Linked DNA regions of Homo sapiens. The main gene of each other region encodes a partner of the protein of the gene in region 4 in a complex. Each region holds a gene or a part of one and is shown on either strand. Other genes may lie near its edges. A codon is read from its position in the direction of its gene.

Region 1 (7,024 bases), on a different chromosome or scaffold from region 4:
AGGTTGTCTAGTGTACAAAGCTGGAGACTAGGAACAAGATCTAGGTTGAGAGTATAGTTGTAGGAGTTACCAGTTTATAAATGGTAATTCAAACTGTAGAGTGTATGAAATGAGCTAAAGGGGAGAGTGTAGATTCAGAAGAGAAGAAAATACTGAAATCCCGAAGAAAACCCATGTTTAAGGGAGAATGAAGGGAGAAGAGGAGAAGATTGAAGAGTAACCTGTGAGATTAGAGAAAAACTAGAAAAGCATGCACTCATGGAAGCCAAGCATATCAAGTAGGATGAGGACAGTAAAGAGTGTTCACAGGATTTAACAACAAATAAGTCATTGGTGATCTTGACAAAACACTTTCTTCCCCCGCCCCAAGACCGATTGTTGCTCTGCTGCCCAGGCTGGAGTGCAGTGGCATGGTCTGGACTCATTGCAACCTCCGCCTCCCAGGTTTAAGCTATTCTCCTGCCTCAGCCTCCAGAGTAGCTGGAATTACAGGGCATGCACCACCACGCCCCGCTAATTTTTTTTTTTTTTAAATAGAGACGGGGTTTCACCATGTTGGCCAGGCTGGTCTCGAACTCCTGATCTTGTGATCCGCCCGCCTCAGCCTCCCAAAGTGCTGGGATTACAGGCGTGAACCACCACACCCAGCCGACAAAAACACTTTCAATGGATTAGTGGATGAGGCGGTCAGATGATAGCAGGTTGAGGAGCTGATTGGCAACAGTGCCTATAGTCAATTATTTTAAGAAGCTTTGCTGTTAAAGGGTTAGGTGAGAATGTGGGAGATTTTTGAGGGAGCTTATTTAATGCTTATGGAAAGGAGCTTGGAAAGAATAGGTTGTAGATACAGAAACCAGGGCAGTTAGTTGATGGAACTCAATTGTTAGGGATATTGGGATTCCAGATGGAAGGTAATCCAGATGGAATACCTTTAGCCGTGAAGGAGTTGTGACAGAAGGAAATGAAGTAAACAAAGGTGTAGGTGCAGCTGATTTGTCATTTTGGGGGCCAAGAAATGAAATGCTTTCCAATTTAATTTTTCTTCTCATTGAAGGCAAAAGTAGTTATCTACTGAAAGTGAGAAGGGGTGGTAAAGTAGTATTTTTGCTAAGTGGAAAGGGTTGAAAATCATTACTGTGAAGAGTAGGAGAGAGAATGGCCTTGAAGAATAAAGAAAGATTGCTGATTAAAAACAGATGTTTAAGGTGGTGACAACATACCAGTGGTGCCTTCTGCATAGCTGTGTAATTTGGGGTATTCACTCAGGCACCTCACTTTCAGCTGAGATTGGAATCCTGAGGGTTGGTATAGAGAAGGTGACTAACAGTTGGTTTATTCAAGGTTGCTGTTTGCTCACTAGACATGACAGAAGAAATATGGGACAAGTGTGTTGAAGTTGGCAAGAAAATGGCCGAAGAGATTAACCATGAAGTCTAGACCAGGAGTTGGCAGACTATAGCCTATAGGCCAAATCTGGCCCACCACCTGTGTTGGTTGTTTTTGGTGATTTTGGTTTTTTTTTCCCCCTTACATTTTAGATGTTTAAATACCTACATAATATCCATAATATGTCTCTTAGCCCACATAACCTATTAATAAAAATACTTACTATTTGACACTTCAGGAAAAAGTTTGCTGACCCCTTATCTAGACTAAAATAGGATTATAATAAAATGGGATGGGACTAACAGGCAGAGAATAGACGGGTCAAGGGCCTTAAAGTCTCGGTAAGATCCAAATATTAGGTATATTGGAAGCAACTGAGCGAGAGACCTGGGAAGGATAGAGGTTGTGGTGAGATAGGATTGTGAGTTGAAGACTTCAGATCTGGGGCAGCTGTGAGTGACCCCAGGTCTAGCTGTGGCCACAGTAGTGGGTAGCTGGAGCAGAGATGGGCCTGTCCGTGGAGTTAAGGGCAAGGAACTAACAGCCTGAGTGGAGACAGTCAAGTTGCCCAGGGGCTGGAGGAAGGGAAGGCTGATGGCCGGCCATTCACATTTCCAATTTGGGATAGGAGAGTTAATATAAATAACAATCAAATATATTCAATCCTTAAACGTGAGGGAAACCTGACTGGAAGGCTGATCATTAATTTTTTTTTTTAAGACCTGGAGCCACAGTGTGGAAGGGGTTGCTAGTGAATAGGGAGGCTTGTGCGTGTTAGGTAGCATTAGTAAATGGTACCAACCACGTAAAGCAGAGCCACCAGCACTTGGGACATTGAACCAAAACCAATCTTCGACGCTTCCAGCTGCCTTACTGGCGATTCATTTAGAAGAACGTGGCTTTCCTTTGTTACTGTAGTTTTTGAAGGCAGAACTAGCATGAGTTTGTGGATACAGACTTCAGCCTTCCTTCAGTGTTCCATGCACATAATCAGAATGACCTTCCTTCATCGCCGCAGGTTATTCTTACAGCTGGATGGCAGGGTCGTTGAAGAACTTCCTCATGAGTGACCTTCAAGTCCTTTCTAATCCAGATTCTGTGATAATACAAGTATGATGCAATTTTCACTAAAAGCTAAAAAAAAAAGCCCATCTAATCAGAGATGATCTTCACCTCTAATTTCTTGTTTATTGTCAAGTAATACCTCTGTTGCAGGCACTTTATAGGGCTACAAAAATGAGTGGTCCCCGTTGATATTGTGCTGTTATCCGTATCTTCTTTAGCCATTATTTCTTCATATGTGAGAAAGTAGTAGCCTCAGTTTTACTTTAAAAAAAAATTTTTTTTTTAAATTTAGAGTCTTGCTATGTTGCTCAGACTGATCTCGAACTCCTGAGCTCAAGTGATCCTCCTTCTCAGCTTCCTGAGTAGCTGGGACTATAATAGGCTTTGTGCCACCATGCCCAGCTTACTTTTTTCTATTTCTGCTTTATTTTATCCTCATGTCTGGACCATAGATAGATCATTGTTATCCACCAGCAAGAATGTGTCATGGCATAAAACAGTCAAGAAATCTAAGTGAAACCTTGACTGGGCTGTCTTTGGGCTTGTGCGGTAATGCCTCACATGCAGTGAACTCTCAACAAATGGCTTTTAAATTGAATTGGAATCTTCCATTTCTATATTAGCACATTTTGTACCTTTAGGAAAAACTTGATTTTAATGTGTTGTTTTCGTATGTGTTTGCTTGTTTCTTGAGTAGCTGATGGATTTACAACTGAGTGACAGTAACTTTCGTCGACACATCCTGTTGCAGTATCTCATTTTATTCCAATATCTCAAGGGGCAGGTCAAATTCAAAAGGTAAGATAATATGGGTAGTAAACAATTTGTAAACAGTAGCCAAGAAAAAAAAGGACTTGCTTACGATTTTTCTTATGTATGTGTCCATTTCATGTTAAGGCTGTATCCCTAAAACACATGTATTGCAGCTGATACATTGAAGGCTTTTCGATATTAGGATATTTAAGGAAAAGATGTTAAATATATCTGTCAGTGTGAGTTTTTCCTGCCCAACTCCAGGGCTTGCCAGGAGTTGTCGTCTTTATTAGCAGGTGGAGGTCTCTGCTCCAAAATTCCGTCATTCCCTTCTCACCTCCCTCAGACCTCCTCCAAAGCTGATTTGCAGACTAAGCCAGTAATACATATCTCACAAGGTGTGGAGCTCTGCAGGACATTCAAGCTAAAAGATGCAAAGAAAATTTTTAAGCAAAAAGGAGTTCATTTATTTGGGGTTTCACAAAACCTCATTAGGCTCTCTACTGTCTATCTAAATACTTCCATCCATTTCCTCCTATCCTGTCCATAACTGAAGGTGGAGCCCACTGTTACTTAACGGTATTTGTGTTAAGGACACTGAGCAATGCCGTATTAGTTGTATAATGACTTCACTACCTGCTGGGTTTGAATCCCAGGCTCGTCATTTGCTGGCTGCAGTGCAGCTCTTTCAGACTTGTAATTTTAAGGTAGTAGCACATGGTAAACACTCAAAAAATGTTATTTCTTATCCTTCTATCTATTTTGGAGGTTTGGTATAGCATAGTAGGAAGATGAGGGACTTTGAAGTGAGACGTGGGTTTGAATTAAATCTTTATGGCCTTGGGCAAATCAGTGAGACACGGTAGTCTCTGTTTAATATGTACATGTACTTGTTCCGAGAATTCAATGAATAATGTATGTAAAGTGTTCAGATCCTAGCCATCAATATTTATTGGATGTCTTTAAATCACCTAGTGCATTATGAGAGCTCAGTTAGTGGCAGCTATTAACAATTTGGGTTTGCCTGTTGCCTTTTCTAGGGTTTGGGTGTTTTATTCGTTGTATTTTGAATGAATCTTAATGTAGCATGCCATACTGAATGTGCATCATGTATACACATATCTTAATATCAAATCAGAAGTTTTCGTTTCACACTCAGCTTATTTTAGGAAACATATATTGCTCTGTTCATAGTGAATCTGATTGATTAATTGAATGTTTTATTCCCTGCATATGCTTTTATGTCTTCAGTACCAACCCTCTTGAGGAAGAAGTGCAAGAATTTTCTCTTATAATCCTCTCATTTGTGATTATTCTTGTCTTGGTAATTTTTGACACTATCCACAGTATAGTTACATGTTACATGCCTTGTGTTTTTTAAACCTTAAAGTTGCATATGCATTGCTGTAACTCAAGCATGCTTTCATTGCTTTGTTCCCTAGTTCAAACTATGTTTTAACTGATGAGCAATCACTTTGGATTGAAGATACTACAAAATCAGTTTATCAAGTAAGTTCAACACGCAACAAACCCATGATTGAAAAAATGGAAATTTAGGATTTTCTTTGTTTCAGCCCCAAATAGGAAAATAAGGATAAAGTTAAGCTCAGGTACAAGACCACAAACACTCCTTGGTTCTCTGCCTACAAACCACTCCTATGATGCAGAAAGTTGTTGAAAGCTTAGTATATTCTTTCTAATCACAGCTACTATCTGAAAACCCCCCCGATGGAGAAAGATTTTCAAAGATGGTAGAGGTATGTGTTTTTTATGCTTACATCCTCTTCTTAGCACGAAATAGAACTTCAGAGGATTCCACTAACCAAAATGTAATCGCTTTGTTTTTCCCAGCATATATTAAACACTGAAGAAAACTGGAACTCGTGGAAAAATGAAGGTTGCCCAAGTTTTGTGAAAGAAAGGTAAATACATACTGAAAGAAAGGTAAATACATACTCATCACAAGAACGACGAGAAAGGCTTTTGAAAATGTGCTCCGATATGATTATAGCATGTAAAAATACATGTATATATTTCACATAAAAAATGTAAGTTGAACTTTGTAAGAGTACAACCACTTTGATTTACCTCTGTATTTTTTAAACCTCATAAATTTCTTGTCATTAAATTCCTGGAACAAACATCTTATTATTGAGAAGAATACTGTATATCTACTCCGTGTAATTTGCCATATAATGTGGCATTTTTATCTTATATCTGATAATTGTTCTATCATAATATGAAGTTTTCATTTTTTTTTTTTTTTTGAGAGGGAGTCTCACTCTGTCACCCAGGCTGGAGTGCAGTGGCATGATCTTGGCTCACCGCAGCCTCCGCCTCTTGGGTTCAAGCGATTCTCATGCCTCAGCCTCCTGAGTTGCTGGGATTACAGGCGCCTACCACCATGCCTGGCTAATTTTTGTATTTTTAGTAGAGACAGGCTTTCACCATGTTGGCCAGGCTGGTCTCAAACTCCTGACCTCAGGTGATCCACCTACCTCAGCCTCCCAAAGTGCTGGGATTACAGGCATGAGCCACCATGCCCAGCCAGTTTTCATCTTTTTTAAGAGGAAAACAATAACTAAATTTTCTTTTACGTTAAACATTCTTCTATTTCTGTTATCCATTTGTAATTCAAAAAATAGTGTATGTTTTGTTCACGACAGAACATCAGATACCAAACCTACGAGAATAATTCGGAAGAGAACAGCACCCGAGGACTTCCTAGGGAAAGGACCCACCAAAAAAATTCTGATGGGAAAGTAGGTGAATTTGTCTTCATGTGGGATGTTCTTAGTTATTTTTATATTTTGAAGATGTTACTTTAAGAACTCTCCATCCAAAATATAGTATGAGATTGTGTTTGGTACACACATAGATAGCCAAAGCAAACCGCACTGTCTATACTGCCCATTGTGTGGGTTCATGCACCAGATAAACCTTCATTTTGTCTCCAGCTTCCAAAATCTGTGTCTCTAGGCTGTGCCATTTTTTCCGTTTCAGACAGTAGAATTGTTTAGATTCCAGTTGTTGCAAGGTACCATAATCCTTGAGTTCTCTTACCTTCCAGTTAACTATTCATTGCTTTATATTGTGCTGGAATATTTTTAGAAAAAACTAAAGATTATATCATTATCATTAGTCATGATTAATGATTATATGCTCATATAGAGAATAATTTTAGGTATTTTAAATACCAAAAATTATTGAGAAAAGTAAAACTCATACTGTCAACATCCCCAAATCCACTGTTTACATTGTATTGTTTTTCTGTTCAGTTTCAAGGCACATGAGGATGGTGTCCATAAAAAATGTATTTATTTCTGTGTCTATTTTGTAGTGAGGAGTTAACAAGGCTTTGGAATCTTTGCCCTGATAATATGGAAGCCTGTAAATCAGAGACAAGGCAAGTTGAACATTTTTCAAATGAAGTGTTGCTTTTGTCAAGTGTTGAGTAGAATGGAGCCTTTTCTCAGCTATGATCAGAGCTCAAATGAAATTTAAAAGTTTATTGTGGTTGACTTTTGGCACAGCAGCGTGTAACTTCCCACCATAAAACTCCTCAAAGTGCTGATAAAATAATTTTAGAAATCACAAAAAAATAAAGATTCACAAAAGGAATCAAAACTACAAACAGAAGAGTAAGCCTATGAACTGATACGGTTCTAGGGCAGCAGTACTAATGATTGCCAGCTTTGAGAACCAGGGAACTTGGGTTTTAATAGTCACAAAAGTTCGTTGAACTTGCAAAATGGGCAAGTTTAATAGCAGTCTAGACATAGGTAAAGTAAGAATTAATGGGTTAATTAATGATTAAGAA
Region 2 (6,285 bases), on a different chromosome or scaffold from region 4:
ACTTATTGTTGAATCATAAGTGGTAGCTCCCTTCCATTGTCTAGGACTTTAATGAGTAAGCCCGGAAGAAAGCTCTGGTCTTCTTTCTAGGATAGTGCAATAAACTTGTGGAAGATTATGAGCAAACAGATTATCTTGCTGATTATGTCTGGGTTCCCAGGGGAGAACATTAATATCTGCTGGAGTCCTGATGGGCAGACCATTGCTGTAGGCAACAAGGATGATGTGGTGACCTTTATTGATGCCAAGACACACCGTTCCAAAGCAGAAGAGCAGTTCAAGTTCGAGGTCAACGAAATCTCCTGGAACAATGACAATAATATGTTCTTCCTGACAAATGGCAATGGTTGTATCAACATCCTCAGGTGAGGGGGTCTAGCTTAGGGGACTGTCATGTCTTTGTGCTGGGTGCTGTGTCAGATATGGAGATGAATTAGATGTGAGCCTATCCTGAAGGAGCTTAAAACACAAATAGTAAGAGAGAATCCTAACCTGTCTTAAGTACATTTGAGCTGTATATTTTATATACTTTATATTTTACTGAGTCCTTACAGAAATTCTAGGGGTTGATGATTTGCTTCTCATTTGACAGATGAGGATCTGAGGGTGAGAGGTTACATCAGTAGTCAGCTAGTGTGTGCTAGAACTGGATGCACCTTGAATTATGGCTAATTCGTACTCCCTTTTTTTTTGTTTTTCGAGACAGAGTTTTGCTCTTGTTGCCCAGGCTGCAGTGCAATGGTGTGATCTTGGCTCACCGCAACCTCTGCCTCCGAGGTTAAGCGATTCTCCTGCCTCAGCCTCCCAAGTAGCTGGGATTAGAGGCATGTGCCACCACACCTGGCTAATTTTGTATTTTTTGTAGTTTAGGGTTTCTCCATGTTGGTCAGGCTGGTCTCCAACTCCCGACCTCAGGTGATTAGCCCGACCTCTGGCTAATTCGTACTCTTAAAGTTTCAACTGAAATATCACTTTGCCTTCAGGGAAGCTCCCCCGCTACCCCAAGGTTAGAGGTAGGTTAGAGGCGTATTTTATATACTTTCTGTAGGAAGCACTTTTCTTTCTATATTGTAATTGCATGTTTATTTGCCTGTGTCTCCTGTTAGACTGTGAATTCCTTGATGGTAGGGATGGTGTTTGCCTTGTTTAGTGTTGAGTCCCTAATGTCTAGTCCTGTACCTGCTCCACGTAGTAGGATCTTAGTAAATATTTGTTCTGTAAATGAATGAAACTGTGGAGCTGAAATTCAGGTCTGTTCAATTCTAGCCTTCCACTATCCCAGGTGAACAATGCAAGACCAAGTGAGATAGGTTCTGTGAGTGGGAGGCCAGGAGTTTGCTGTGAAATTCCACGGAAAGAACAGACATACTATATGGGGGGTTGAAGGAGGGAGCTTGTGAGCTTGATCTTGAAAGATGAGCAGAATTTTAAGAATAAGCAAAAGGGAACCACATAACTGACAAAGCAGGTGTGAGTGAGCATGACTTACTTGGAGAGTGGTTAGGTCAGGGTTGTTGGGGGAGTGGTGGCAGATAAGGGAAATAAGAGAGGGCATGATAATGGGAAGATGAAGTCTAATTTGGGACCAGATTATAAAAGGCCTTTATTTTATGCTTAGTATCTTGGGTTTTATTTTGTAGGCAATGGGGATTCTATAACTTTTTAAGAAAAATCTTTTTATTATAAAACACAGATATTGAAAACCACATAAAATAAATGTATAGCTTAATGAACTCTTATAGGCTTAACTCTTGTGCAACCCCGCCCAAGTTGAGAAGTAGTTCTTTCCAGCCATCCCAGAAGTCCATCCAGGTGATTTGTCCTAATTACAACTTCCTTCCACAAAAGCAAACACTATCCTGACTTTTATAGTGTTTCTTCATAGTTTATCTACCACATGTGCAGCCCCTAGATACCCTAGTTTTGCTCATTAAAAAAAAAAAAAATTGATATGTCTTTTGTATCTCTTAAATTACTCAAAAGAAACTTCCGAAAACGTAGCTGTTGAAAAACCAGACTGTTAACCTGTGGAGATTCTCCCAGTTTGGCTTTTGCTGATTCCATATGCTGTTTATGTGTTGGACTGTTGTGTAAAGAGATGCTGCTTCTCATCTGCGATTTGGTTACCCAGTAGTGTAGTTCATGTAGGGAAGGCAGGATAAAATTTTGATTCTGTTTGTCAGATAATGATTTTGTTTCCTGCTACCTCCAAAGATGAGCAGTTAGGTGTTTTTTTTTTAAAGAATCATTACGGGCTGATGTTTTTAAACATAGTTGGTGTGTTTCCATCTCTTGTAATTGTTACGCCTGTTGAAGCTCAAATTATCCCATCTTTGGCCAATAAGAACCTCTTCAAGTTGGTTCCTGAGACCTTTTTTGACATAATCCCATCGTCTTCTGTTTTTTTGCTCTCTGGTTTGATAAGATGTTCCAAGTTCATCTTGTGCATTTCTTGCCCCAGACCTTTAATCAGAACATTCTCCAAGAAGCCTTAACATTCTGGCTGGGTGCGGTGGCTCACGCCTGTAATCCCAGCACTTTGGCACTTTGGGAGGCCGAGGCGAGTGGATCACTTGAGACCTGGCAATCATAGAGAAACCCTGTCTCTACTCAAAATACAAAAATTATCTGGGCGTGGTGACGCACGTGTATATTCCCAGCTGCTTGGCAGACTGAGGCAGGAGAATCGCTTGAACCCGGGAGGCGGAGGTTGTAGTAAGTTTAGATTGCACCACTGCACTCCAGCATTCTGGACGACTGAGTGAGATTCCACCTCAAAAAAAAAAAAAAAAAAGGAGCCTTACATTCTTTTACTGAGAAATGATACTGAAGTTAGGAATGTTCATTACTGCTGGGTTGGCCTAGGAATTACGTGTGTGTGTGTGTGTGTGTGTATATATATATATATTTAAAGATAAAATACCTTATGAATTCATGTTGATAACTTGCAATCAAAATTGAGGACTCCAGGGATTTTACTAAACCTCTTCTATATTACAAATATATTTCTTTCCTCCCAAATTGAGTATTCTGGTTCTCAAGGGCACAGGGGATCATAGAATTAGAATATCCGATGGTTACTTATTACCTATCTCCCATGGTAAACATATAGATGTCTCAGAACAACAATATTACTGCTGCTACCACCAATGTGATGACTTGAAACAAAAAATGTTTTTGGTTTTTGCATATACTCTTTCCATTCTTCCCCCATTAAAAAAATAGTACTATATGTTGTAAGCATGTGCAGATGTTACATATTATACCCTCTCTTTAAACCATGTATAGTTTTTGCAAGAAACTGTATATTCAGTGTTGAGCACCAGTCCTTATAAGTCTCTAGTCATTTTTTTAATTGAAGCTCATTCTCTAGTTAAGATTCCTCGGGAAGCGTTCATGGGAACATTATTCCTGGAGTTTTTATTACAACTTATTTACGTACTTCTAAAACTTACAGATTTTATAAAACGTTATTGTGCTTATTGTTTGTATCATTATATTTGAAATTCAGTTTTGCTGGATGTAAAAATCCTTGGCTCGTTTTCTCGCTTGTGTATCTTTCTTAAATATGGTACTCCATTTTCTTTTGGCATTAAGTGTTGCTGTCAGAAAGCCCAATAATCTAATTTTCTTTTTCTTTAAAGTCCACTAGTTTTGCTAGTCTCTGTCTCGATGTTGGTAACTTTGGTTCTGTAGTCTCAGGTATGTGTTGTGCTTTTTAAATAATGTAGTTCAAAATCTTTTTTTATTTCAGGAATGTTATCTTGAATGACAGTTCTTGGTGGTGGTCTATTATCTTTGCTTTTCTTCTTCATCATCTCCTATTATTGTTTCAGCACCACAGTCCTCTTCTGCAGTTTGATCGCTGTCTTTTTTCTCAGCTACCCAGAACTGAAGCCTGTGCAGTCCATCAACGCCCATCCTTCCAACTGCATCTGTATCAAGTTTGACCCCATGGGGAAGTACTTTGCCACAGGAAGTGCAGATGCTTTGGTCAGCCTCTGGGATGTGGATGAGTTAGTGTGTGTTCGGTGCTTTTCCAGGTAAGTGACTCTATCAGCACTTCCCTTGTTGGGTACATTAATTTTATTTCATCTTGAGTGACATTGTTCCCTCCTCTTACTTGGTAATTCTCTTGTCTCTTCTGTCCACTCTGTATCATAGGCTGGATTGGCCTGTAAGAACCCTCAGTTTCAGCCATGATGGGAAAATGCTGGCGTCAGCATCGGAAGATCATTTTATTGACATTGCTGAAGTGGAGACAGGTAACTTCATGAGAATCTACCGTCTTTCACCTTTGGCAGTCAGGACTTCTCTTGTGATCTCATCTCTGCATGTGACTACTTCACCAGCATGATCATGAATGAATTTGTCTCCTTTAGACAAGTATGTTTCTGTTTTGACTGTCACTGCCAGGTGGTGAGGAAGCAAAGAGTTAAGAAATAAACAGGCAGGTCTGAGGAAAGTGATTTAGAAAAATATTTTGATTTATTTAAACTTTAAACTACAGAGTAGAAGGAAGAAAAAAGCACCACTTGGGGTCCCACTCTCTAAATACCACCTGTTTTAAATGTTGTGATATATTTCTCTTTATCTTTTGCCTGTATATGAACTTGAAAAAATATTATTTAAAATTTGAGGAATTATAAAGTTTTTGCTTTAAAAACAACAGAAGCTGGAAATAGAAAAATGGGAGGAGAGTATTCATTTTGCAAAAGAATTTCCTCAGATTTGTTTTTTAATGTTGCTTTATTGTTTTTGGAAATCTTTGACACTCTTCGTAAAAAGATTAAAACTGTATAGAAAACTTCGAAGAGGAAAGTAAAGAACTTGAAATTCCACTATGTAAAGAATGCATGCCCCTGTTAGTCACGTTGTGGTGAACATTGTCCAGCATCCAGCCATGCAGATCCTTCATGTAACTGCATGTCCCTGTGACGCGGAGACACTTTCCTGCTCAGTGACCTGCTCTTGAGTTAACCCACCTGTGCTCAGAACCGGCTCTGTCCTCCACTGGCTTGTGGGCTCTCTGTGCCTGGGGGTTCTCTGTAAAATGAGGTAATAGTTGTATCTATCTCATGGGATTAGTAGGTGGATTAAACCAGTTAATACTGGTAAGTACTTAATGAATGTGTCCTTCGTTTTGAACGTATTGATTGGTTTCTCTCTATTGTTTTCTGTAGGGGACAAACTATGGGAGGTACAGTGTGAGTCTCCGACCTTCACAGTGGCGTGGCACCCCAAAAGGCCTCTGCTGGCATTTGCCTGTGATGACAAAGACGGCAAATATGACAGCAGCCGGGAAGCCGGAACTGTGAAGCTGTTTGGGCTTCCTAATGATTCTTGAGAGGAGGTTGTAGGGAGAGGAGGCCCCGGCAGAGGTCTTCCTTCATGTGGTTAGTTTGGTCTGTTCTCTCGGAGTTGGTGGGCACCCTAAATATTTGTAAGTTGGTATAAATTGTAAACGTCTCTGGTCAGGCTGCGCATTTCATTCTTTTGCTTTGTCTGTGTATTAGCTCTTTCCATTCTTTGCCCCCAGCATGAGTTAACTCGCGTGGACTCTGCAGTGCGAGTAGTGACCCCACCATACCTTGTCCTCTGGACCTCCTGTCTTCTCTGCTTCTGGGTGCATGGTAGACTTTGTGGCATTTGATACAACTTGGACAATACCTAGTTTGGAGGGAGGGGAATGGAAGGGCATGGAAGTTTTTTTAAATAATTAAAAATATATATATATAATTTTGAGAATTGAGCATTTAATAAACTGACTTTTGTTATTATGGAACTTCTAAGACTTTTAAAATTATTATGTCCTTGAGTTGCAGTTTTGTATTTTTTTTTTTTTTAATTTCAGAAAGAGAATTTAAATGTTATAATTCTGTCATTTAATGTCCCAACCAAGAAGCCTCTGAAATATAGGGACAAAGCTAATTGAATGACCAAACTAAAATTTTGGCTCTGAGCTTCCTGGTGGCAAAGTGAAGAGGGGAGTAAGTCATTTAGCTTTCTTATTGAAAAGAAAAACACTTATTGGTTCCTCATGGAAAGCAAAGCTTTATTAGTTCTTCCCTCTAAAAAAAAGGGCTTATGTTTGGAGGGTTGTTACCTAAGAGCAGTGGTTTTTCATTATATTGTAATTTTGTTTGGTGTTAAAGCAAATATTGAGGCATATAGAAATAGTGTTGGTAGAAAATTTTGGAAAAAGATAAGCAAAAAGAAAAATTACATTCCTAGCACCAAGAGGTAACTGCTATTAGAATTTTGATGTATATCCTTCCAGAAGTT
Region 3 (7,882 bases), on a different chromosome or scaffold from region 4:
GGGATTACAGGCGTGAGCCACCGCGCCCGGCCTGTTTTGTTTTTTGAGATGGAGGCCCTCTCTGTCGCCCAGTCTGGAGTGCAATGGCGCTATCTCGACTGACTGCAACCTCCGTCTCCCAGGTTCCAGAAATTCTCCTGCCTCAGTCTCCCGAGTAGCTGAGATTACAGGCGCCCACTACCACGCCCGGCTAACTTCTTTCTTTTTTTTATTTTTAGTAAAGACGGGGGTTCACCAAGTTGGCCAGGCTGGTCTCGAGCTCCTGACCTCAGGTTTAATTGTTATACCCCCCGGGCCCTTAACAAAGCTGTAGTGGCCAGGCTAACCTGGGCAACATAGTAAGACCCTGGTCTCTACAAAAAATACAAAAATTAGCCGGACGTGGTGGGGCAGGGCCTGTGGTCCCAGCTACTTGGGAGGCTGAGGTGGGAGGCTCACCTGAGCCCAGAGAGCCGTGATCGTACCACTGCACTCCAGGCTGAGCAAGAGTGAGACGCAATCTCAAGGGGAGGTGGGGGGAAGGAAGCTGCAGTGATCTCTGCATGGATTGGTCGTGTGTCTGATTTCTTTTTATTGTTTGTTTGTTTGTTTATTTATTTATTTATTTATTTATTTATTTATTTGAGACGGACTCTCACTCTGTCGCCCAGGCTGGAGTGTAGTGGCGCGATCTCGGCTCACTGCAACTTCTGCCTCCCGGGTTCAAGAGATTCTCCTGCCTCAGCCTCCTGAGTAGCTCGGATTGCAGGCGCGCGCCACCACGCCCGGCTAATTTTTGTATTTCGAGTAGAGACGGCGTTTCACCACGTTGGTCAGGCTGCTCTCGAACTCCTGACCTCGTAATCCGCCTGCCTCAGACTCCCAAACTGATGGGATTAAAGGCGTGAGCCACCGCGTCCGGCCGTTCGTGTCTGATTTCTATATGTGCTGCCGAAGCGAGCACTCGTGTCTAATTTTTGATTTCCCCACACCACGCACGCTGGACTAGATCACCGGCTGGGCAAGGAAGGGGGTCTGCGTCCCTGCGGGGTCCTGGCAGCTCCCGCGCCAGGACTTTGTTGAATGAATGACTGAACTGAGCGGGCGCCGCGGGGCGGGGCGTCCCGAAGCGGACCTCAAGGCGGGCGGAGGCGAGAGCTCCGCCCCGGAAGGCGGGGGCGGGGGCGGGGCGGCGGCCGTGGGTCCCTGCCGGCCGGCGGCGGGCGCAGACAGCGGCGGGCGCAGGACGTGCACTATGGCTCGGGGCTCGCTGCGCCGGTTGCTGCGGCTCCTCGTGCTGGGGCTCTGGCTGGCGTTGCTGCGCTCCGTGGCCGGGGAGCAAGCGCCAGGTACGCGGGACTCCGGGGTCGGGGAACCCCGGGCCGGGGCTCGGGAGCCGGACTGGGTGTCTGGAGAACAGCGCCGAACTGGGGGAACAGGCGGATGTGGGGATCTGGGGTCAGGTGGCCTTCAAACAGCTCGCTCCCGGCTGTGGGAAGTTCCATCACTCTCCAAGCTTCATTCACAATCCGGGCCTCAGTTTCTCCCACCGTCCAATTGGGGTTGGGGGGGGTCTTCAGTTCCACAAGTCCGAAGTACTTCGAATGGAGAGAGAAAGTGAGTGAGGGCGGGATGTTTAGTCTAGGAAGGGGCACGCCCCCAGCCTGGTCCGTACAGGGTCTAACTAGCCCCAGTGATCGACGAGTTGGGGAGGCCGTCGAGAGGCACTAGGGTCTGTGCCCTCTATACCATGTGGGGTGCCCCCTTCCATCCGGTGACTTCAGTGCCCAGCTATGCGGGGGGAGGGACTGGGGTCGGGCCCGGTGCCCAGGAGTGAGTCACCCGCCGGCGGCAGGGGGGTTGTGGGGACCTGACCCCCCCCACCCCCAGCGTCCCGCGCTACGCCCTCCCTCCCGGAGCTGCCGTGTCCCGGTCGGGCCGTGCGGTCACCTGTGAGGAATGCGCGGGGAGGGCGCCGGTGACTCACGTTATTCGAGCCGGCCGACCCTGACCTCAGACCCCAGAATAGCCGAGTCCCGCCCCCAGCCTCTGACCCGAGGCCCCCTCCCCAGGCACCGCCCCCTGCTCCCGCGGCAGCTCCTGGAGCGCGGACCTGGACAAGTGCATGGACTGCGCGTCTTGCAGGGCGCGACCGCACAGCGACTTCTGCCTGGGCTGTGAGTGGGGGGCAGGGCCAGTGGCCAGCGGACCCCAGACTGGGAGGGAGGGTGGCTGGTGCGCAGAGCGGGGCCGAGAGCTTTGCATCTGGGAAATCATTCGGGAGGAGGTGGGAGCTGGGAGGGGGCTCCGGTCAGGGAGGAGGCCACGTTTGGGAGAAGGCAGAAGGCTCAGTCTTAGGGGGCGGGGCTGGCCTGGAGAGGGGCGAGGTCTGACTCCGAGTCCCGCCCCCAGGCGCTGCAGCACCTCCTGCCCCCTTCCGGCTGCTTTGGCCCATCCTTGGGGGCGCTCTGAGCCTGACCTTCGTGCTGGGGCTGCTTTCTGGCTTTTTGGTCTGGAGACGATGCCGCAGGAGAGAGAAGTTCACCAGTAAGTGTGCCCTGGCCTGCCCAGCCCTGTCAGCACTCGACCTTTTCTCTGCTGCTGACGACCCCACCTCTTATCTTGCAGCCCCCATAGAGGAGACCGGCGGAGAGGGCTGCCCAGCTGTGGCGCTGATCCAGTGACAATGTGCCCCCTGCCAGCCGGGGCTCGCCCACTCATCATTCATTCATCCATTCTAGAGCCAGTCTCTGCCTCCCAGACGCGGCGGGAGCCAAGCTCCTCCAACCACAAGGGGGGTGGGGGGCGGTGAATCACCTCTGAGGCCTGGGCCCAGGGTTCAGGGGAACCTTCCAAGGTGTCTGGTTGCCCTGCCTCTGGCTCCAGAACAGAAAGGGAGCCTCACGCTGGCTCACACAAAACAGCTGACACTGACTAAGGAACTGCAGCATTTGCACAGGGGAGGGGGGTGCCCTCCTTCCTAGAGGCCCTGGGGGCCAGGCTGACTTGGGGGGCAGACTTGACACTAGGCCCCACTCACTCAGATGTCCTGAAATTCCACCACGGGGGTCACCCTGGGGGGTTAGGGACCTATTTTTAACACTAGGGGGCTGGCCCACTAGGAGGGCTGGCCCTAAGATACAGACCCCCCCAACTCCCCAAAGCGGGGAGGAGATATTTATTTTGGGGAGAGTTTGGAGGGGAGGGAGAATTTATTAATAAAAGAATCTTTAACTTTAAATGGTTTGGAGAGGCAGTGATCCCCGACTGACTCCCCTGAGCTGGAGGGAGGGAGTGAGTCAGCCAGCCGCGGGGGCGGGGGTGAGGCTCTGACTCACACATTCTCAATGCCTGGAACTCAGCCGGCAAGGACCTGGCTGGCCCTAACAGTTTTCCAGGGAAGATCTTGAGGAGAAACCCCAGCATCCCGCGCCTCTGCCCTCTCCACCATCCCCAAAAGCCCCAGGTTCCAGACTGAAGCCTTCCTTTGCTCAGCAATCTTTATTCAGTTCTTCTTGGGGGTGGGATGCCTCCCTTCCCATGCTCCCACCCCTCCCATCCCAGAACTCCGTTGGGCTCAGTGTCCTCTGTTGAGGGAAGGTCTTGGTGCCCAGATGCCTACTCTGCAGGAGAGGGAGGAACCTTGTCCCTTTGCGGGAGTCGCTGGTCTCTTCTGTTGTGGGGAAGAAGGAAGGTGGGAGGGGCACTGTCCACCAGCACTCAGAGCTCCATTATGTCCCCAGCTGGGGTTGCAGGGTAGGGGGGACTGGGGGTGTCCCCCAGCCTCAGCAGACGGAGGGCCTCAGGGATGAGGCTGCCAGGATAGCGCCAGAGAAGCAGCTCAGAGCAAGGGCTCCTAGAAGAGGAAATGACTGTCAGGGCATGGAGCTGAGGCTGGCCTAGCTGAGCACCTCCCACCAGGTCCAGGTCCCCAGGGGCTCCTGGGTTCCCAGCACTTTCCAAAGAGCCAAGATGGGAAACAACCCAGAGGTCAGCTAGAGCTAAAAATGGCACGATGAGGCAGGGCCTGAGGTCAGCTGTGAGGACCGCCTGTGATTCTGCAGAAGGCCTGGCCAGTGGAGGAACCTACCTGAGTGGGGGCAGGGCTGGGGAGAAGGTCATGGGGGGGCTGCAGTAGGGGTGGTCATTGTGCAGGCTGAGTTGAGAGAAGTGGGTGGCCATGTTCTCCTCAGACAGAAACTGCTTGCGCAGAGGCTCCCTGGGGAGAGATGGCAGAGAGGCAGGCTGGGATACTGACACAGGAGGCAGCCTGTTGGGGACCAGAGGTGACAGAGATCTTGTTGGGAGTCCCTCCCTGCCCCCAAACTCACTGCTCCTCCTCCAGGCGCCGCTTGGTGCTCATGGGCACAGCTCCTCGGAGAGGGGAGCTGGGAAAAAAAGAGAGCCTGGTGCACCCCACCCTCTTGGCCCCTTCCCAAGGATCTGCCCGCCTAAGCCTGCAGCATCAGCCAGGAGCCCCAAGCCCATTCCTGTCTCAGCTGGTGCCGGTCCCCGCTCTCCTGGACCATCCAGCAGGGTACCTCGGAAGTCTCGACCCTCAGCCGCAGCCCCAGTCCCATCTCAGCTCACGCCTAAGCCCCGCCGATTCGCCCCACCCCGTATTCATCCTGCAGACCAGTCCTGAGCACCCAGCCAAAGCTCCTGCGGCCCTTGGTCAGGCCCACCCTGGTCCCCTACACGCACCTGGCGTCCAGGCCCCAAGTCACCCCCAAGGCGGCCCGCGGGAGGCGCTGGGCCCCTCCCTGGGGGCCTCGCTGCAAGGGCTGCTGCAGGATCATTGGGTTTTGGGGTCCTGCGGGTGGGATCTGGGCGACAGGGGAGGAGTCTCTGAGGGCGTGGCCAAGAGAGGATGGGCGTGGCTTTAGGCGGGCACAGCCGCGAGGTTCTGCGCGGGCGCGGAAGACGGGCGGCGCGTGGCGGAAGGCAGGCTTGCTCCTCGGGGTGGGGGAGGGTATCCGGCTTAAGGGGGCTGCGGTGGACACCACTTCTTAATGTCGGGGGTCTTCGCGGCGCTCACCTCGGCTCCTAGGGTTCGGGACGGTACGCACCAGCCACCTTCGCGCCGAAGGCGGTAGGGCGCCACGGAGAGGAACCGCTCTAGGCACGTAAGGCCTCGTGAGGTTGCGTCGCGCGCGGAGCACTCTGGGACTTGTAGTTCTGGAGATGGAGCGAGCTGTGCCGCTCGCGGTGCCTCTGGGTCAGGTGAGACGGACGTGGTGCGCGTTGCCTTCTGGGGTTTGTAGTTCACGCATGGCTGGGACGGGGCGGGCAGGGAATCGTGCCCTGAGCCCTGTTTTGCCTGGGCTATTTGTGGGACTCAGACTCTGACCAGGGGGGCGGGATAGTAACCCAGAAGTGCTTCAGGGGCTTAACGCAAGTCAGAGAGTAGGAATTATAAATCAGTACGTTTTTCTATGTTGGGGTAGTAGAGGTACTTTTTTTTTTTTTTTAATTTTCTAGTTCTTGCAAAGCACTTTTTTTTTTTTTTTGAGACAGAGTCTCACTCTGTCACCTAGGCTAGAGTGCAGTGGCGCGATCTCAGCTCACTGCAACCTCCGCCTCCCAGGTTCAAGCGATTCTCCTGCCTCAGCCCTCCAAGTAGCTGGGACTATAGGCGTGTGCCACCATGCCCAGCTAATTTTCGTGTTTTTAGTAGAGACAGGGTTTCACCATGTTGACCAGGCTGGTCTCGAACTCCTGACCTCAGGTAATCTGCCTGCCTTGGCTTCTCAAAGTGCTAGGATTACAGGTGTGAGCCACCACGCCCGGCCAAATTTTTTTTTTTTTTTTTTTTTTGAGATGGAATTTCACTCTTGTTGCCCAAGCTGGAGTGCAGTGGCTCCATCTGGGTTCACCGCAACCTCCGCCTCCCAGATTCAAGCAATTCTCCTGCCTCAGCCTCCTGAGTAGCTGAGATTACAGGCATGCGCCACCACTCCCAGCTAATTTTGCATTTTTAGCAGAGACAGGGTTTCTCCATGTTGGTCAGGCTGGTCTTGAACTCCTGACCTCAGGTGGTCCACCTGCCTTGGCCTGCCAAAGTGCTGGGATTACAGGCGTGAGCCACTGCGCCCGGCCCCACATTTTTAAATTTTTTTTGAGACAGAGTCTCACTATGTTGCCCAGGCTGCTCTCAAACTCCTGGCCTCCCAGAGCGCTGGATTACAGGCATGAACCACCACACCCGGCTTAAGCACTGAGTGACAGCCCCATGTAAAGCTCTTGTCTATACACTAGCTCATCTAATTGTGATGGAATCTTCTGTGAGCTCCATTTGTCAGTTGAGGAAGCTGGCAGGAGAGGCCTGGGTGCTTGCTCAGAGGTCCCTGAGGCATCACCTCAACTCTCCCCTTCTTCAGTGTCTTCTTGGAGCCACCCATGGGACTGCATGGGCAGGTGCTGGCTTGGGGCGGGGCCGCCTCAAAAGAAGGCTGAGAAGTCAGGACAGTGGGAGGCCTGGCAGGTTTTGGGGGAAGCAGGGAGGAATCTGTGGATGGGAGGTTTCATACGTCCCAGGCAGGCCTCATCCAGTCTTTCCCTGCAGACAGAGGTGTTCCAGGCCTTGCAGCGGCTCCATATGACCATCTTCTCCCAGAGCGTCTCACCATGTGGGAAGTTTCTGGCGGCTGGCAACAATTACGGGCAGATTGCCATCTTCAGGTACCCTCTGCCGCTGTCCACCCATTAGCCCTGGCACTTGGCCCTCATGGGACGGATGCCCCCGTTTCTGACTCCTGGGTCCCCTCCGCTGTCCCTGCAGCTTGTCCTCTGCTTTGAGCTCAGAAGCCAAAGAGGAAAGTAAGAAGCCGGTGGTGACTTTCCAAGGTGGGTATACCTGTGGAGTCTGGCTTCAGGACTTTGGGTGGGATTGGCTCACTCAGTTCTGCATTTCTCTTTAGCCCATGATGGGCCCGTCTATAGCATGGTTTCCACCGATCGACATCTGCTTAGTGCTGGGGATGGGGAGGTGAAGGCCTGGCTTTGGGCGGAGATGCTCAAGAAGGTAAGGAGTCGAGCTTGGGAAAGGGCTGGGGTGCCTGGACCCAGAGAGAGCCTTTGAGGTCACCTGGTATTTTCTCTTTTGAAGGGCTGTAAGGAGCTGTGGCGTCGTCAGCCTCCATACAGGTGAGCAGGGCCACGTGGATAGAGGGTGCATCAGGGTGAAGCCACTTCCTCACTGACCTTGCCTTTCCTTCCCCAGGACCAGCCTGGAAGTGCCTGAGATCAACGCTTTGCTGCTGGTCCCCAAGGTCTGAGCCCCATGTGACTGTTCTTGGTCCAAACTTTGATCCTTCACCCTCTGCCTATCCTGATTTGACATTGACTTTCTGCCTCATCCTGCTCCTCCACAGGAGAATTCCCTCATCCTGGCTGGGGGAGACTGTCAGTTGCACACTATGGACCTTGAAACTGGGACTTTCACGGTGAGCAGGGTCCTGGAGCCCTAGAGCAGGTCTAGGTCAGGGAGAGGCACTCTTCCTAGGTCTCCTCCTGACATCGCCCCTCTACATGCAGAGGGTCCTCCGGGGCCACACAGACTACATCCACTGCCTGGCACTGCGGGAAAGGAGCCCAGAGGTGCTGTCAGGTGGCGAGGATGGAGCTGTTCGACTTTGGGGTAAGCAGGTGGCTGGTTGGAGGGCAAGATGGCAGTGAAGGAGGCTGAGGCAAGTGGGGCACCACTCACAGTTCTTTCCCCGCAGACCTGCGCACAGCCAAGGAGGTCCAGACGATCGAGGTCTATAAGCACGAGGTGAGGGTGTGACCGTGGCCATTGTCCTCTTCTCCCCCAACTCCTTGAATTCTCCAGGTCTTCACCTCTTTCCCTCCTCCCCTCCCCATCCCAGGAGTGCTCGAGGCCCCACAATGGGCGCTGGATTGG
Region 4 (7,566 bases):
TGTAACAGAATGCAATCATAAAACTGACTATACTGATTTGGATCTACTATAATTCAATCCACATTCCACAAGTCATGCAATAACTACATACACGTAAGTTCTAATAACAGGTTTTTTTGCTGTTGTTTTTGGTTTGTTTTTGTTTGGGTTTTTGTTTTTTTTTTTTTTTTAAAGAGTTTCGCTCTTGTTACCCATGCTGGAGTGCAACAGCGCGATCTCCGCTCACCGCAACTTCCGCCTCCCAGATTCAAGCGATTCTCCCGCCTCAGCCTCCTGAGTAGCTGGGATTACAGGCATGTGCCACCACGCTCGGCAAATTTTGTACTTTTAGTAGAGATGGGGTTTCTCCATGTTGGTCAGGCTTGTCTGGAACTCCTGACCTCAGGTGATCCACCCGCCTCGGCCTCCCAATTTGCTGGGATTACAGGCGTGAGCCACCACGCTCGGCTTCTAATAACAGTTTTTAAGCAGCTCTTCAAACATAAGAACTATGACAGATAGCATGTATTATGTAAATATACATAATGTGAACCTAAAATTCCATTTTATCTAAGTATTTCGATCTCCTACATCACTTTTTCTCAAACCATTACCAGTCAGAAGCCAAGCAGAATTTCACCTTATAGCCCTAATACCACTCATGCTAAGGTGGCAGCAATAATAGTAAAACTGTTGGGAGGCCGAGGTGGGCGGATCACCAGGTCAGGAGATGGAGACCATCCTGGATAACACGGTGAAACTCCGTGTCTAGTAAAAATACAAAAAATTAGCCGGGCGTGGTAGCACGCGCCTGTAGTCCCAGCTACTCAGGAGGCTGAGACAGGAGAATCGCTTGAACGTGGGAGGCGGAGGTTACGGTGAGCCGAGATCGCGCCACTGCACTCCAGCCTGGGCGACAGAGCGAGACTCCGTCTCAAGGGGGAAAAAAAAAAGTAAAACTGTCAAAAAACAGTAGCTGAAAGGAGGAAGCTGAGCAATCTACAAACATAACAGCCCCTAAATAAATGAGCTGGCTTTGAAAGTAAACAAAACAATGAACTGCTTTTATCAGTTTTGGGGGATTACCCTAATATCGATGAAGATGATGGTCTGGCTGGGTAACTTCCCATCTTGCCTTCCCCAAACTTGATGGCTATTTGTCAACTAGCTATCAAACTTGACAGCTATTTGTTAACTAGCACATACGAGGATTTGTAAAATGTTCATTATAGTTAAAAACGAAGATTTATCAAATAGCCTTCTCTGACAATTAATAAACCAATAAGCATTCTAAGCATAGGCTGGGGGGGCGGGGCATGTGTTAAACCAAAAGAAATATGAGACATAGTCCCTATATTTCAAAGGCCTCCCAATTCATTACAGTGCAAGAATAAACACACATGAATAAGTCAGAGACCAATTAATTGCTAACCTGAGTGGTACAGACTTTAAGTGCATGAGCTGTCCTGAGAAGTTTAAATATCTAAAGGTTGGAATAATATTACTTTTAATAGCTATCACTTGAGCACTTACTATAAGCCAAGTGCTTTACAGGCATTATTTAGTCTTCACAACAATCCTTTGAGTAGAGTACTTATTATTCCCAATTTACTCAAGGGGAAACAGTCCAAGTGGTTAAGGAACTTACCCAAGGTCACTCAGCTACTTAAGTGGCTAAGACAGCCGCTTATTTAGGGAATTCTAGAGCTCACACTGTTAAGACTTCATACAGCAGTGCGGGGGGTGCGGGGGAGGAAGCCACATAGGCTGGCACTATTACAAGCGCGGGATCCGGCAACGCGTTCCTCGTGTTTCGTTCCAAGTAACGAAGTTACAAAGATTTGAATCTTTAGCATGAGCCACGGTAAACTGGCTACTAGAAATGGAGAGGGGTGGGCAAGGACGACAAAAATGGCTAACGAGGGTTAATTTCATCCAGGGTTGAGCTTTAGCATCTAAAAGCGACCCAGAGAAGGAAATGAGATGTTATTAATATTTGTTCTTATATCTGAGGTTTGCTTTGCTGCTTAAACGACTCCTTCCAGGGGAAGGGGAGGAGGGAGCGCTCTAACGTGGGGGCGAGAAGACTAGGGGTATGGCAAATTACTGTTTTCGGTGTTACGGGGGAAAGTTTCACGACTAAAGGAAACGCGTTATCCTAGGTACTGGAGAAGCTTGGAGAGCTGCCAGAATTAGTTGCAGTCCCAGGATAAAATGGGGTTTAGGGAACATTTAATGACGAAAGTTGAATCCAACCCGAAATAGCTCTAAGGTGAAAAGACGGAGCAAAGAAATGTCGGTGGTTCTTCAGGGAAAGCGGCAATCCCTGCCACACTTCCCCACGGCGCTACGCGAGGCCGGGACAGTCGAGAGACCGCTCCCCGGGAGGGCGAGAGGTGCCAAACCGGGTTCTTCGCGGCGCCCCGGGCTTCGCGGCAGCGGGCGAAGAGGAGGGGAGGGGAATCCGGGACGGTTCGCCCTCCTTGGACTTCAGGCAGAGGAGGCGCCAAGCTCCAAACTGCGGAGTCCAACGGGTGCAGAGTGAAGAAATGGCACAGAGAGAGATGGAAAGTCCGAATTGCCCCGGCTCAGCCCCATAAAGATAAAGGAGCCAAGTGAGATCAAGCGAAGAGGGGGACACAAAAAGAGACCAAGAGGGAGCGCGGAGACCTGCAGGGGCGGAATAAGAGTTCTACTAAGAGGCTAAAGGAAGCCGAGCTACCGCAGGCAGTAGCGATTTCTGGGAGGCCAGGGAAGGAAGGAGGTCCGCGGCGGTAAACAGCACCTCTCCCCGAGTTCGAAACTCCTAGACGACCATCCACGCCCGCCGCCCGGGTGGGGGAGGGGGTACATCTTTCCCCCTCAACCTCCCACTACAGGTGAGAGTGCAGCTGACGCCCTGGCCCGGCCCGGCAGTGCGCCTGCCTCCGGCCCGAACACTCACAATTCGCCTCTCCCTGATTTCTCCCAGTTCTTTATCCACTCTGCGGGAACCACCACAGCCGCGGCCGCCATCTTCCTCTCACTAGTAGCAGAAGCCCGGATGTGTAGCACGCGAGCGAAGGGTCAAAGGGGAGCACCGCCCACGAGGAATGCCGGGAGCTGAGAGTTCGTTTTTCGATTTCCCGCCCCACTTTCCTCTCCACCCAGCGGAAACCCGAGGCAAGGCAGCCAACGACGTGGAGACTCGCGGGCCCCTTTGCGAGGTTACTACACGGGTTGCGCCCTCCGAAGTCTTCGGCCTTACTTCCCATTAGAACAGAGAAATGCCATCCACAGGCCAACAAGTAGACTTCATCTTCTTCCGTAATATCTACCCCTAACCACTAATACAAACACGCATTTTTCAAGCACCTAATATGTGCTAGACACTGGGAATAGAGAAATAATAGTCTTTGGGAAAGCCATAAATATAAGCAAATAAATTACATTACGCCCTGCTGACTGCTGAGATAAAAGAAAATAATCGGGTCCCTCTCCTTCTCCCTCTCCCTCTCCCGTCTCCCTCTCCCGTCTCCCTCTCCCCACGGTCTCCCTCTCCCTCTCTTTCCACAGTCTCCCTCTGATGCCGAGCCAAAGCTGGACTGTACTGCCATCTCGGCTCACTGCAACCTCCCTGCCTGATTCTCCTGCCTCAGCCTGCCGAGTGCCTGCGATTGCAGGTGCGCGCCGCCACGCCTGACTGTTTTTCGTATTTTTTTGGTGGAGACGGGGTTTCGCTGTGTTGGCCGGGCTGGTCTCCAGCTCCTAACCGCGAGTGATCCGCCAGCCTCGGCCTCCCGAGGTGCCGGGATTGCAGACGGAGTCTCGTTCACTCAGTGCTCAATGGTGCCCAGGCTGGGGTGCAGTGGCGTGATCTCGGCTCGCTGCAACCTCCACCTCCCAGCCGCCTGCCTTGGCCTCCCAAAGTGCCGAGATTGCAGCCTTTGCCCGGCCGCCACCCCGTCTGGGAAGTGAGGAGCCTCTCTGCCTGGCCGCCCATCGTCTGGGATGTGAGGAGCCCCTCTGCCTGGCTGCCCAGTCTGGAAAGTGAGGAGCGTCTCTGCCCGGCCGCCATCCTGTCTAGGAAGTGAGGAGCGTCTCTGCCCGGCTGCCCATCGTCTGGGATGAAGTGAGGAGCGTCTCTGCCTGGCCGCCCATCGTCTGAGATGTGGGGAGTGCCTCTGCCCCGCCGCCCCGTCTGGGATGTGAGGAGCGCCTCTGCCCGGCCGCGACCCCGTCTGGGAGGTGAAGAGCGTCTCTGCCCGGCCGCCCCGTCTGAGAAGTGAGGAGACCCTCCGCCCGGCAGCCGCCCCGTCTGAGAGGTGAAGAGCGTCTCCGCCCGGCCGGCCGCCCCGTCCGGGAGGGAGGTGGGGGGGTCGGCCCCCCGCCCGGCCGGCCGCCCCGTCCGGGAGGTGACGGGCGCCTCTGCCCGGCCGCCGCTACTGGGAAGTGAGGAGCCCCTCTGCCCGGCCACCACCCGGTCTGGGAGGTGTACCCAACAGCTCATTGAGAACGGGCCATGATGACAATGGCGGTTTTGTGGAATAGAAAAGGGGGAAAGGTGGGGAAAAGATTGAGAAATCGGATGGTTGCTGTGTCTGTGTAGAAAGAGGTAGACATGGGAGACTTTTCATTTTGTTCTGTACTAAGAAAAATTCTTCTGCCTTGGGATCCTGTTGATCTATGACCTTACCCCCAACCCTGCGCTCTCTGAAACATGTGCTGTGTCCACTCAGGGTTAAATGGATTAAGGGCGGTGCAAGATGGGCTTTGTTAAACAGATGCTTGAAGGCGGCAGGCTCGTTAAGAGTCATTACCACTCCCTAGTCTCAAGTACCCAGGGACACAAACACTGCAGAAGGCCGCAGGGTCCTCTGCCTAGGAAAACCAGAGATCTTTGTTCACTTGTTTATCTGCTGACCTTCCCTCCACTATTGTCCTATGACCCTGCCAAATCCCCCTCTGCGAGAAACACCCAAGAATGATCAATAAAAAAAAAAAAAAAAGTCAACAGAAAAAAAAAAAAAAAAAAGGAAGGAAAACTTTCCAGAAGAGAGATGTGTCTAGCACAAGAGAAGAGGAATAGTCCTGAGCCTGGAGGATTATTTTGCAGGAATCTCACAGGGCAGTTCCTAATGCAGGAGAATTAAAATAGGCTTTTCCTGGTGTATTTCTTGCAAACATTTTGGGCCAAGTGGCCTTCCCACACCCTCACATGAGCCTGCTTCCCTCCCACTCCTCTGTCATCAGGGCATTTCTGTTTAGGAACAGCAGGTCTAATATTGACTTAAATAAAGCAGACTTGACAGAAAAAAAAAAAAAAAGAAAGAAAGAAAATGTGGCACATATACACCATGGAATACTATGCAGCCATAAAAAATGATGAGTTCATGTCCTCTGTAGGGACATGGATGAAGCTGGAAACCATCATTCTCAGCAAACTATCACAAGGACAAAAAACCAAACACCTCATGTTCTCATTCATAGGTGGGAATTGAACAATGAGAACACTTGGACACAGGAAGGGGAACATCACACACCGGGGTCTGTTGTGGGGTGGGGGGCGATAGCATTAGGATATATACCTAATGTAAATGACGAGTTAATGGGTGCAACACACCAACATGGCCCATGTATACATATGTAACAAACCTGCACGTTGTGCACGTGTACCCTATAACTTAAAGTATAATAAAAAAATTAAAAAAAAAAAAAACACACGTTTGGCAGAAAATACAGACAATCCAAATGAAGAAATCCTACCCCACATATGAACTTTAGAGCTAGTATCTTCTAAATATGGCAAGTTTTGTCAAATGAACCAGGTTCATTTGCATTGAAAAACTATTTAAGTTATGTGCTGTATTCAGAACTGGTTCTGGGAAAATGCTCCATTGTTTATGATTGTTTTTCACCAGCTGTATCTAGTCTTCTAGTGTCCTGTCTCACTTTGAAATTCTAAAGCCACCCACTAGAAAATATCCACCTATTAACTTCAGTGATTTCTGCTTGTAAAAACCTTCTGCCGTTTTGAGGAGGATCAAATATAGAAGTGCCCTCTAATCTTTTCATGTTTCCTTATTATGGACAATTTAAAATGTATACAAAGCAAACAGAATGATACAGTGAATCTTCATGTACCATCATCCTTCCTGGAAAACTTTGAAGTCATTATTACAAGACGGCTTCTGTGATACAAGAAGCACTATCTTGCTACTTATGTATACTTCTCTGTGTAGTCTACAGCAAGGACTTTCAACCTGGGTCAGATAATTTTTTGTGGGGATAGGGGGGATGGGGGCCAGGGGGCAGGGGTCCTCTGCATTGTAGAATGTTTAGCAACATCTCTGGCCTTGACTCACTAGATGTCAGTAGCAGCCCCCATACACACACACACACACACACACACACACACACCCACACCAGTTATTACAACCGTTTCCAGACATTGCTAAATGTCTCCTGGAGGGCAAAACAGTCCCCTTTTGAGAACCACTGAGCTACAGTATTCTCCTGTACTGTGGCTTACCTTGCCACGTATCACAGTGATTTCTTCTTCCAAACATTGAACTGTGCAGTATGCATAGTAATCAGTATGTCACACTTGTGGTATGACCTGAGTGCAATGATGCCCTTTGAGGCCTGGTTTTCCCTTCTTCCAGAAACTGCAGAACTATTTTTACATGGTATGATGACTCCTTTAGGAATTACTCAGAGCTAATTGGCTTTTTGATCTATAAGATTGCAAAGCTATTAAATCTTCTGCATCCTTGTTGTTGGCTTGCCTGCTCTTTGCTATCAGCATCTGGTATTATCTCAGCAGCTGGGGGGATTTTTCCCTGGTGATCTCACAAGCTCATGGATACCAATGTGCTATTCAGGGACTGAGGTCTGTGGTGGAGGCCAGGGATTGGGTAGTTTCAATGTTGACAGTCTGATGCATGGAATGATAGGTTGATTTTAGGTTACTGTAAGGTCAAGCAATCTTATAACTTACCATCTCAGTGAAGACAAATAATGGGACCAAAAAGGAAGCACATAAAAGCAAAACAAGACAAAATAACAAAATAATTAAAGAATGAATGCAAAGGGTTTTTTGAGATTTAAAATGAAGAAAAGTTCTTTAGAATAAGCTACTTGATAACTTCTGCATTTTATGCTAAGGCTGTTTATGCCAAACCAATCTACTTGTCTCCTTCCTGTCTACAGTGCTCCTTTGGTAAAAACAAGATCTTTTCTTTTTCTTTTTCTTTTTCTTTTTCTTTTTCTTTTTCTTTTTCTTTTTCTTTTTCTTTTTCCTCCCACTTCAGCCTCCCAAACAGCTGGGACTAAAGGCACTCACCACCACACCCGGCTAATTTTTGTATTTTTTGTAGAGGCAGCCCAGACTGGTCTCAAACTCCTGAGCTAAAACGATCTGCCCACCTCGGGCTCCCAAAGTGCTGGGATTACAGGCGTGAGTCACTGTGCCCCACTGAAATCTAGCTATTTTTAAGGGACATCCCTAAAACACAGGGACACAAGAAGTTTGAAAGTGAAATGATGGGGCAAATACACCAGCCAAATACTAATATCAACAAAAATTAAGCTGTTGTAACTTAATTT

Evidence for each region.
Region 1: the proteins of THOC2 (region 4) and THOC1 are in contact, whole or in part, in a cryo-EM structure (PDB 7ZNL), measured with the Homo sapiens proteins. Residues at the interface, in NP_001075019.1 of Homo sapiens: Leu155, Phe156, Tyr157, Lys158, Gln160, Asn163, Leu164, Leu165, Arg166, Asn169, Glu170, Ala173, Lys174, Ile176, Ala177, Gly180, Gln181, Asn195, Lys197, Ser198, Leu199, Ile200, Gly201, Cys202, Phe203, Asn204, Leu205, Pro207, Asn208, Arg209; in NP_005122.2 of Homo sapiens: Asn134, Arg138, Asn141, Leu144, Arg145, Lys149, Thr153, Cys156, Gly157, Gln160, Leu161, Ala164, Arg165, Phe167, Gln242, Phe245, Arg246, Tyr297, Ala299, Lys300, Phe301, Arg319 (codon at 3,185), His320 (codon at 3,188), Leu323 (codon at 3,197), Gln324 (codon at 3,200), Ile327 (codon at 3,209), Tyr331 (codon at 3,221), Arg373 (codon at 4,941), Phe374 (codon at 4,944), Lys376 (codon at 4,950).
Region 2: the proteins of THOC2 (region 4) and THOC3 are in contact, whole or in part, in a cryo-EM structure (PDB 7ZNL), measured with the Homo sapiens proteins. Residues at the interface, in NP_001075019.1 of Homo sapiens: Tyr395, Arg396, Pro401, Lys402, Gly403, Ala404, Lys405, Gly406, Ser407, Pro446, Ile447, Ala450, Arg454, Cys500, Asn501, Ala502, Cys503, Met504, Glu506, Pro563, Arg566, Gln567, Lys570, His573, Tyr603, Leu604, Thr605; in NP_115737.1 of Homo sapiens: Asp193 (codon at 313), Met196 (codon at 322), Ile208 (codon at 358), Val217 (codon at 3,901), Gln218 (codon at 3,904), Asn221 (codon at 3,913), Ala222 (codon at 3,916), Pro224 (codon at 3,922), Ser225 (codon at 3,925), Ala244 (codon at 3,982), Asp245 (codon at 3,985), Ala246 (codon at 3,988), Leu247 (codon at 3,991), Ser249 (codon at 3,997), Trp251 (codon at 4,003), Asp252 (codon at 4,006), Asp254 (codon at 4,012), Glu255 (codon at 4,015), Leu256 (codon at 4,018), Val257 (codon at 4,021), Cys258 (codon at 4,024), Val259 (codon at 4,027), Cys261 (codon at 4,033), Ser263 (codon at 4,039), Leu265 (codon at 4,166), Asp266 (codon at 4,169), Pro268 (codon at 4,175).
Region 3: THOC2 (region 4) and THOC6 share a complex: the UniProt entries of both Homo sapiens proteins name them as parts of the transcription/export (TREX) complex.

The regions. Positions count from the first base shown.
Region 1 is NC_000018.10:223,026-230,049, reverse strand, and holds part of THOC1 (THO complex subunit 1), read left to right. Parts: intron 1-3,148; coding exon 3,149-3,249; intron 3,250-4,646; coding exon 4,647-4,713; intron 4,714-4,910; coding exon 4,911-4,961; intron 4,962-5,055; coding exon 5,056-5,126; intron 5,127-5,849; coding exon of another isoform or gene 5,850-5,870; coding exon 5,871-5,966; intron 5,967-6,544; coding exon 6,545-6,610; intron 6,611-7,024. UniProt on the Homo sapiens protein: Component of the THO subcomplex of the TREX complex which is thought to couple mRNA transcription, processing and nuclear export, and which specifically associates with spliced mRNA and not with unspliced pre-mRNA.
Region 2 is NC_000005.10:175,959,031-175,965,315, reverse strand, and holds the end of THOC3 (THO complex subunit 3), read left to right. Parts: intron 1-160; coding exon 161-365; intron 366-3,881; coding exon 3,882-4,043; intron 4,044-4,164; coding exon 4,165-4,265; coding exon of another isoform or gene 4,266-4,357; exon of another isoform or gene 4,358-5,126; intron 5,127-5,183; coding exon 5,184-5,347; 3' UTR 5,348-5,785; downstream 5,786-6,285. UniProt on the Homo sapiens protein: Component of the THO subcomplex of the TREX complex which is thought to couple mRNA transcription, processing and nuclear export, and which specifically associates with spliced mRNA and not with unspliced pre-mRNA.
Region 3 is NC_000016.10:3,019,164-3,027,045, forward strand, and holds the start of THOC6 (THO complex subunit 6), read left to right. Parts: upstream 1-4,871; 5' UTR 4,872-5,163; coding exon 5,164-5,202; intron 5,203-6,544; coding exon 6,545-6,660; intron 6,661-6,760; coding exon 6,761-6,825; intron 6,826-6,899; coding exon 6,900-7,003; intron 7,004-7,087; coding exon 7,088-7,125; intron 7,126-7,201; coding exon 7,202-7,250; intron 7,251-7,352; coding exon 7,353-7,424; intron 7,425-7,515; coding exon 7,516-7,618; intron 7,619-7,703; coding exon 7,704-7,753; intron 7,754-7,847; coding exon 7,848-7,882. Other genes in the region: TNFRSF12A (tumor necrosis factor receptor superfamily member 12A precursor), read left to right, coding at 1,235-1,328, 2,052-2,156, 2,392-2,526, 2,608-2,663; HCFC1R1 (host cell factor C1 regulator 1), read right to left, coding at 3,700-3,835, 4,070-4,198, 4,311-4,367, 4,684-4,778. UniProt on the Homo sapiens protein: Component of the THO subcomplex of the TREX complex which is thought to couple mRNA transcription, processing and nuclear export, and which specifically associates with spliced mRNA and not with unspliced pre-mRNA.
Region 4 is NC_000023.11:123,730,029-123,737,594, forward strand, and holds the start of THOC2 (THO complex subunit 2), read right to left. Parts: upstream 3,025-7,566; 5' UTR 2,995-3,024; coding exon 2,924-2,994; intron 1-2,923. UniProt on the Homo sapiens protein: Component of the THO subcomplex of the TREX complex which is thought to couple mRNA transcription, processing and nuclear export, and which specifically associates with spliced mRNA and not with unspliced pre-mRNA.